Regions from separate parts of the Homo sapiens genome. Here all the other regions are linked to region 1. Evidence: fine-mapped expression QTL. A gene starts in region 1. Each other region holds a variant in brackets. All regions are shown on one strand. Distances are from middle to middle.

Region 1 (2,768 bases):
TGTCTGTGCTCTCATGTTCACTGCAACATTATTCACAATAGCCAAGATATATACTCAACCTATCCATTCATTTGTCAATGAATGGATAAACACACACACACACACACACACGGACTTTTATTCAGCTTTAACAGAGAAGGAATCTTGTCATTTGTGACCACATGGATGATGGATGAGCCTGTGGGACATTATGCTAATTGAAGTAAGTCAGGCACAGAAAGACAAATACTATATGACTTCACTTGTAGGTGGAATCTGAAAAAGCTGAGCCCATAGAAGCAGAGAGTAGAATGGTGGTTGCCAGTGGCTGGGGGAGGGAGGAGGTGGGAATGAGGAAATATGTTGGTCAAAGGGTACGAAGTTTCAGTTAGGCAGATTGAATAAGTTCTGGAGATCTAATGTACAGCATGGTGACTATAGTTAATAATACTGTATTGTGTCCTTGAAACTTGCTAAGAGAGTAGATCTTAAAGGTTCTCACCACACACACCCAAAAATGATTATATGAGGTGATGGATGTGTTATACAAATTAACTTGATCGTGGTGATCATTTCACAATGTATGTATACGTCCAAATATCATGTACGTGGTAAATACAATTTTTATTTGTCAATTATGCCTCAATAAAGCTGGAAAAACTAAGTAAAAGATTTTTCACACACACACAAAAGAATAAATCTGCTAAATTGTTACATTATCAAAACATGTTAGTTTTGTTGAATATTAATACCAACTAGTGAGCAATATGACAGCACACTATAATAAAATTGGTTATGCATATCTGATCTGAGGCACTTAAGGAAGAAAAACTTCTGAAACCTTCTTTTTCACTTAAATATTCCGTGAAACAGCTTAGGTTTTGGTGACTTGAGACAATTATTGTGATCATTTACGGTTAAAAACATTTCTACGAGAAATATACAAAGGATTGAGGCACTTTGGAGGACTGAACTGCTTAATGATTTTGTTTACACTCTTTATTTCACTTTGGATAGGCAGACAAAGCCTAAGAGCATAAATTACCTAAAGACAGCATTTTGGGCAGAAAATGTACTTTATTTGAAACTGAGCAAATGAGTCAGTCTCAAAATGTCCATTCAACTAATATGTATTTGAGTTGTGCTTGCTTTTTAAGATGTTTTGAAAAATGCTGAATTCAGAATTGAATTTTGATTATTGAATTGAGTATTTTTTACTCTTGTTAAAAGTTAATATCAATTTTATTGTTGTACTCCAAAATATTTTTAAAAACTTGTTACAAGAGGAATAAATAGGCTTTAAAAAACACTTGTCTTCAAGAAAACAGGAGAGTCTCTGACAGGTCTCTACTTCTTTGAGGGTCCTCTAACTCCAGCACCCACTTCTGTGGTTTTACGGGGCTTATTCCGCGCTTCCACCCGCGAAGAAGGAGCGGTTGCAGCCGCGCAGGTCTCGTCCAGAGCGCGATCTCGCTGCTCTTCAGCGCGATCTGCGGCTCCCGCGGCGTGCTCCGCGGGGTCTCTCAGGGCTGGTACCAGGGGCGTGGGGGCGGGGCTGAGCGAGTCCAGCCCAGGGCTCCGGGGACCGTTTGTAGTTAGGATCCGCTGTGGCGTCCTGAGTGGAGTTTGGGACCCCAGGGAGGGAGGGTGTGGGCGTTCGGGTCCAGAGGAGCTGTTTAGGTGCGTGTGGAAGGGAGCTGCATGTGGCGGTTTTTCTCTGGGCCGGCGGCTCTGAGGGGGAGCGTGTGCGTGGGTGGGAGGGGGCTGGCTGGCCCTGCCCCTCAGAGCGACCGGAGTCGCCTTATCCCCTGGGTTGGTGCGGCCCGAGGCTGAGGGCGCGGCGGGGGATGGGGGGGATGCGGTGTTGCAGCCTCGGGCGAGGGGAAGCCAGGACAGGAGGCTGTGAGGGTGGGAGTCGGCCGGCGAACTCCCACTGCGGGAGGCGCACGGGCTGTGGTTCCTGGGCTCTGAGGGGCACGGTAGACAGGAACCCCGCCTCAGGCGTATGCCGTAATGCGAATTGGCTGTTCTGTGAAAACCTCCAATTTTTTTATTCTTCGTGGTAAATTCGTAAATGCGAAATCGCACTGTTTCTCTAGGTTTACCCGGGTGTTGGGGAAGGGCTTTCGTTAGAATTTTGCTACACGTGGTTGTACACACGCCACCAAGGGACATATTCAGAGCGTTTACTTTAAAGGGCATATCCTGTGGAGAAATCTGGGTGTCCGTGAACCCTGGAAGATCCGGATGCTTGTTGCAATCCCACGCATAAGCGGTTATGCGGGTGCTTCCCACCCCATCCCCAAAACTTCAAGTCGTGCCCCGACTCAACAACGATTTCTGAAGCGCTCGTTGGGCTTGGCCCGGGAAGGGGCTGGGAATGTCGCCATGGGCTCAAGGGGGCCTCTCGTCTTCCAGTTCTGGCTCTGCCCACATGTTCCTGTGAAGAATGCTATATTGAAAAGGTCGTTACGAAATATATCCTGTTTTGCATACGACTTCAGAAAATCTTATAATTTTTTTTTTCATTTAACATAGTATCCAAGATGAATGACAGCCTGTTTGTCAGTTTGGACAGACTTTTGCTAGAATTTGGTAGGTATAAAGTGAAAAAATAGGTAGCTTTTTGTATGATCATTTGATATTTTAACAATGAATTGAAGTCACAAGATAATTATTTATTTTAGTCTTCCAGTATGAGCAAGACATAAGTACTAAAGAAGAGATGATTCAAAGAATTAATAGTAAGTAGCTTTGCATGATCAAGATATTTTAGTCTTTTAATTCCT
Region 2 (2,768 bases), 120 kb before region 1:
GCAGGGGTGGAGTCCTCATGGAAAACTTCTGCTGGGGTAGTGTGGAAAGTAAAGGTGAGGTTGGAGGCCCCAAACGGAGTCCCCACTGGGGCACTGGGTGGCAGAGCTGTGAGAAGAGGGCCACCACCCTTCAGACCCCAGAATGGTAGATCCACCAACAGCTTGCTCCATGTGCCTGGAAAAGCCACAGACACTCAACACCAGCCTGGGAAAGCAGCTGGGAGGGGTTGGGGGGAAGCTTTACCCTGAAAAGCCACATGGGCGGAGCTTCCCAATGCCATGGGAGCCTACATCTTGCATCAGCATGCCCTGGATGTGAGACATGGAGTCAAAGGAGATCATCTTGGAACTTTAAGGTTTAATGACTGCCCTGTTGGATTTCAGACTTGCATGGGGCCTGTAGCCCCTTTGTTGTGACCAATTTCTCCCATTTAGAATGGATGTATTTACCCAATGCCTGTACCTCCATTGTATCTAGGAAGTAACTAACTTGCTTTTGATTTTACAGGCTTATAGGTGGGAGGGACTAGCCTTGTCTCAGATAAGACTATGGACTTGGACTTTTGGGTTAATGCCACAATGAGTTAAGACTTTGGGGAACTGTTGGGAAGGGCATAATTGTGTTTTGAAATATGAGGACATGAGACTTGGGAGGAGCCAGGGGCAGAATGATATGGTTTGGTTGTGTCCCCACCCAAATCTCATTTTGAATTATAGTTCCCATAATCCTCATGTGTCATGGGAGGGACCTAGTGGGAGGTAATTTAATCATGGGGGTGGCTATCCCCAGTTGTTCTCGTGATAGTGAGTGAGTTCTCACAAGATATGATGGTTGTATAAGCAGCTTTTCCCCCTTTTGCTCAGCACTTCTCCTTGCTGCCACCATGTGAAGAAGGATGTGTTTGCTTCCCCTTCTGCCATGATTGTAAGTTTCCTGAGGCCTCCCCAGCCATACTGAACTGTGAGTCAAGTAAACCTCTTTCCTTTATAAATTATGCAGTCTCAGGCATGTCTTTATTAGCAGCATGAGAACAGACTAATACAGAGACCTTGTTAAAGACTTCTGTGCTCCAGAAGGTAGGACATAATCCCTACAGACATTCAAGGGTCCACCACAACTGTGAAGTTTTAAGGATCCTAGTAGTCTGGGACATGCCAGGACATTTTCTCCAAAGTAAACGACAAATTATA[A/G]TATCTTCCACCTCCTGCTACTAAGAAGGAAGCAAAACACTTGGTAGGTAGCTTTGGGTTCTTGGGGACAGTATATTCTAGACTTAGGAATACTGCTTTAATCATTTGCTAACAACCATGGAATATTTCCAGATTTGATAGGGGCCCAGAGAAGGAAAGGGGTCTGTTGCAGGTGCAGGCTGTGGCGAAAGCAGCCCTGCCACTTGGGTCCTGTGACCTGCAGACTGTGATACTGGAAGTATCTACAGTGGGTAAAGGTGTGTATCACAAACTCCAGTAGAAAAATCACATATAGATGCCCAGGGTCTGGCACAAAGTCATGCCCTTTGCAGTAGAGAATTACACGCCAATCACAAATACAGCTCCCTGAAGCTACTGTGCCCTGGTAATGCTGGAATATATAATGACCTTTTGGTCAGGCTGGATTTTGTCAGAACCGCCAAGTCATAAGATTTGGTGGGCCCATAAGGAATCCATTGTAAACTGGAAGTAGTGCATATGGGATTGGACACGAATGAGCGACGGGGCACAGATGAGCTGCAAGAGCAGGTGGCCAGACTCTGTGCCCGGCCCTACTTTTTTACATAGTGAGTGAGTATATGAGTAAGGTCATTGTGAGGGTAAAATGGCCTGGCTTCTGGCCTCTGTGTAGGATATCTTGGAATGGCCAGAGCACCCTATGGGATTGGCCCAGTTCTCCACTGCAACTGTGTTGCAGTTTAACTTCTCCCTTTGCCCAATCCTGTTTGCCTCTCTCTCTTATAGGTATATTCCCTGAGATCACTTACAATAAATCTCCCACACATGGCTCTCTGTCTCAGAGTCTGTTTGTTAGAGAACTCTACCTAAGACATTAGGTCATTCATCCCATAGAATGTCTGGATTTGGCTGATGTTTCCTTGTAGTGTGGTTTTACAGTTACTTGTTTTTCTATCCCTTTGTTTCCTGTAAAGGTGTGGTTGTAGCCAGAGACTTCAAGTAGATTCAGGTGGCAAAGTGTGAATGCATCATATTCCAAGGCATAAAATATCCGGATGTCTCACTTTTGGTAATGTTAATATTGATTGGTAGGTTCAGGTATTGTCATATAAGTTCTTTAATAGCCCTATTTTTCCTTTTTCTCATTTTCCCTTATTCTTTTCATTTTTCATTTCTGTTTCCTCCTCACCTCTTTTCACCTCCTCCTTTCTGTATGTCTCAGATTCCCCAGTGGCACCATGTTTGTTGGTGTGGAAGAACTCAGGGCTCTTGTGATTGCTGGTAACAAACTTGACCTCTTGAGAAAGAGGAAGAATAGCTGACCAGAGAGAAAGAAAATCATTAGTTTTCATGTTCAAATCATTGAATATCTTACTCTAACTCTGTAAAAATGAGTTTTTGTTTGTCCTTGGAGTGACTGAGAAGGGTGAGTTTGAACTGGATATGGATGACCATTTCATACCCTACTCTATCATCGCAAATCATCCCTTTCCCTTTCTGCCCTCTGCCTTCTCAAGGAATCATTACTGGCATGACCCCACTGCTCACATTTTATTGAAATGTGATGGTACTTGCTGCAGTGATAAATTATTCTGGTA
Region 3 (2,768 bases), 87 kb before region 1:
TCTTTTTCAGACATGGAAGGGACATTACTTGCAAAACTAAAATATTTTGGAAGAGAAATCATTGGCTCATATCCACTTAATTAGGACGTTTCAAGAGTCCTTACCCTGGTTGGCATAGAGAATAACTTCTATTTCACATTAGCCTGATATCCCAACCAAAAAAAATTTTTTTCTTCTGCTTTTTAAATTATTTTTTGGTGACTTAACTTGTCAATTCAGACTATTTTGAAAAATTAAAAATTGAAGCTGTCAAATTGGAATAAGTTTCTGGGGCCAAATTTAGATCGACCTTGGGCAAGTCATTTACCTTTTTGGGTCTGGGATTTTTTTTTCTCCCTGCTGTGTTTAAATAAGTTGGACTGGATCTCAGATTTGCTGGACTGGTAAAAGCAGATGTGTCCTTGGCTATAGGAGTAGAAGGTGATGTAGTAATTTCAAGTGCTTTAACTATTAAAGACTTGCTTTCTTAACCAGAAAGTTAGGATGGTGATATGTATTTGTTAAGAATTTGATCATGGAATGAACAATGATAGATGTGCAAATTATTACTTCTTTGTGCGTTTCTTTTCTCAAAGATCATAGGTACAAGCCTGCCTCTAATTATATGTCATTTAGATGTGGCAATTTCATTAGAGGATGTCAAGGTGTTTTGCAAACATTAGTTAAGACTTAAATCTCCCTGTGAGTGATTATGATTGTTTTCCTGGCACATAGAGCAACAAACTGAGACACAAAACACTTCAGAATCTTCCCAAGATTACCTTCCTGAACACTGCCATTAAGAACCACATGGACTGTTTGTAAGTTACTTGCTCTAACCTGCAGCACTATATAGTCACTTGGTAGAAGTCAACTAAGGAATTTTTGAAAGAAGGCCAGTCAGCCTTGGTGCCATTGGCTAAAGTTCTCAGACATGTCGAAATGCGTGTCTTCTATGCAGAAGTGGAGGCAATCCCATCAAAGTGAGGGAGGGACAGTTACCATGAGACTGACTGGCTCTGTCTTCTTTTCAGAAGCTGAAGGCTTCATTCCCACCTGGCACCTGGCACCTGGGTAGATTCTATGGCATTAGGTGGAGTTCGTAAAGGCAGTGTTTCTGAAGAATGGAGATGCCCTCCAAGGTATTACTGTGGATACACTGGAGGGTCCAGGGTCTAAGGGAGCAGGCTAAGGGTTGGATAAATGGTAACTATGCTGCCTAATTTCACTCTTCACAAAAGCACAAGAGATAGACGTCACCCTGGAGAGTGCTGTAGTAATCCCTAAATGCCTTATAGGATTACTGAACCCTACTTTTACAGGTTCTTTCTGTTGTTCTTTTTTTCTTTCTTTCTTTTTTAAGAGATGGTGTTCCTCTAAGTTGTCTAGACTGACCTCGAACTCCTGGGCTCAAGCAATCCTCCCACTTCAGCCTCCTAAGTAACTGGGACTACAGTTGCATGCCACTGGCCCTGCATCACTGGTTCTTAATACGGGAAGATTTTGCTTTTATGACTGTCCACTTGGTGTCATGTGGAGAAATGGCTGACAGACAAAAAA[A/G]TACTAGTTGCAGTAGAATTTATTTATTCATTTCTCTTCTTTCATTGCCTTACTCCTAGACCACTGCCTCATTGGTTTTCTCATTTTCAGTTATTCCTTTTTCAGTCCATCCTGTGCATAACAGCCAAATAAGTTTATAAAGCACTGCTTTCTGTGGCACATCTCCTAAAAGTCTCCTATGGCTCTTCATTGTACAACAATATCAACAATAACAGCAACACAACAGCAACTAATATTAGCCAAGCCTTCAATTATGAGTAGACACTGCACTAAGGGCTTTACATATTATAAACATTTCTGCATAACTTTGAAGATTCCATTAAAATTGGATCTGCTCTTCCCATCTCTTTGGTGTCGACCACAGAAGCAACAAGATGAAGGGAATGTCGTTGGGAAAGCGTCACAAGAAGATGCGCATGTTGTGCCACCACTGCAGCTCCAAGGCCTACCACCTTCAGATGTCAACCTGTGGCAAACGTGGCTACCCTGCCAAGCGCAAGAGGAAGTGTAACTGGGGTGCCAAGGCTAAAAGACGAAATAGCACTGGGACTGGTCGGATGAGGCACCTAAAAATTGTATATCTCAGATTCAAGCATTGATTCCATGAAGGAACAACACATAAACCAAAGAGGGCAGCTGTTGCAGCATCCAGTTCATCTTAAGAATTTCAATGATTTGGGTGGTTGCAGTGGCTCATGCCTGTAATCCCAGGACTTTGGGAGGCCGAGGCAGGCAAATCACGAGGTCAGGAGTTCGAGACCAGCCTGGCCAACATGGTGAAACTCTGTCTCTACTAAAAATACAAAAAATTGGCTCGGTGTGGTGGCGGATGCCTGTAATCCCAGCTACTCAGGAGGTGGAGGCAGGAGAATCTCTTGAACCCAGGAGGCGGAGGTTGCAGTGAGCTGAGATCTTGCCACTACACTCTAGCCCAGGCAACAGCGCAAGACTCCATCTCAAAAAAAAAAAAAAAAAAAAAAGAATTTCAATGATTAGTCACTCAATAAATGTTCTGGTTTAAAAAACAAAAAAATAAAATTGGATCTTACCTTCCTTTTTAAGTTTTATTTCCTTCTATTCTAACATGAACAATCTGTTCTGGAGAGACTGGGTCTCATTTCTGTGCCCACCTTCACCTTCAGCTTCCACTCTGAATGCCATTCTTACTACCCTTGGCTCATCCTGTTTTCCAATCACTGAATGAGCCTTCTTTCCTCTGCACTTTTTTC

Direction of the effects. Positions count from the first base shown, and alleles are read on the strand shown. Sizes are in standard deviations (SD) of each study's normalised expression.
With allele G in place of A in region 2, the expression in skeletal muscle of the gene that starts at base 1,541 in region 1 is higher (moderate effect, 0.63 SD a copy in GTEx).
For the expression in minor salivary gland of the gene that starts at base 1,541 in region 1, allele A in region 3 goes with a lower level than allele G (moderate effect, 0.67 SD a copy in GTEx).

Evidence for each region. PIP is the estimated chance that this variant, and not a neighbour inherited with it, causes the effect. A credible set is the group of variants that fine-mapping cannot tell apart.
Region 2: its variant is the best candidate, but not a certain one, in a credible set for the expression of C14orf39 in skeletal muscle (GTEx, PIP 0.81).
Region 3: its variant is the best candidate, but not a certain one, in a credible set for the expression of C14orf39 in minor salivary gland (GTEx, PIP 0.51).

What each region holds. Positions count from the first base shown.
Region 1 is chr14:60,484,836-60,487,603 of GRCh38, reverse strand. C14orf39 (chromosome 14 open reading frame 39) reads left to right here and starts at 1,541. Exons shown (of 18, transcript NM_174978.3): 1 at 1,541-1,659; 2 at 2,518-2,574; 3 at 2,667-2,723. The coding sequence starts at 2,526.
Region 2 is chr14:60,609,190-60,611,957 of GRCh38, reverse strand. No RefSeq gene overlaps it. Among named protein-coding and RNA genes, the nearest start is that of SALRNA1, 29 kb to the left of the region's middle. The variant A/G (reference allele first, on the strand shown) is at 1,192.
Region 3 is chr14:60,571,457-60,574,224 of GRCh38, reverse strand. It overlaps the pseudogene RPL37P5. Among named protein-coding and RNA genes, the nearest start is that of SIX6, 64 kb to the right of the region's middle. The variant A/G (reference allele first, on the strand shown) is at 1,540.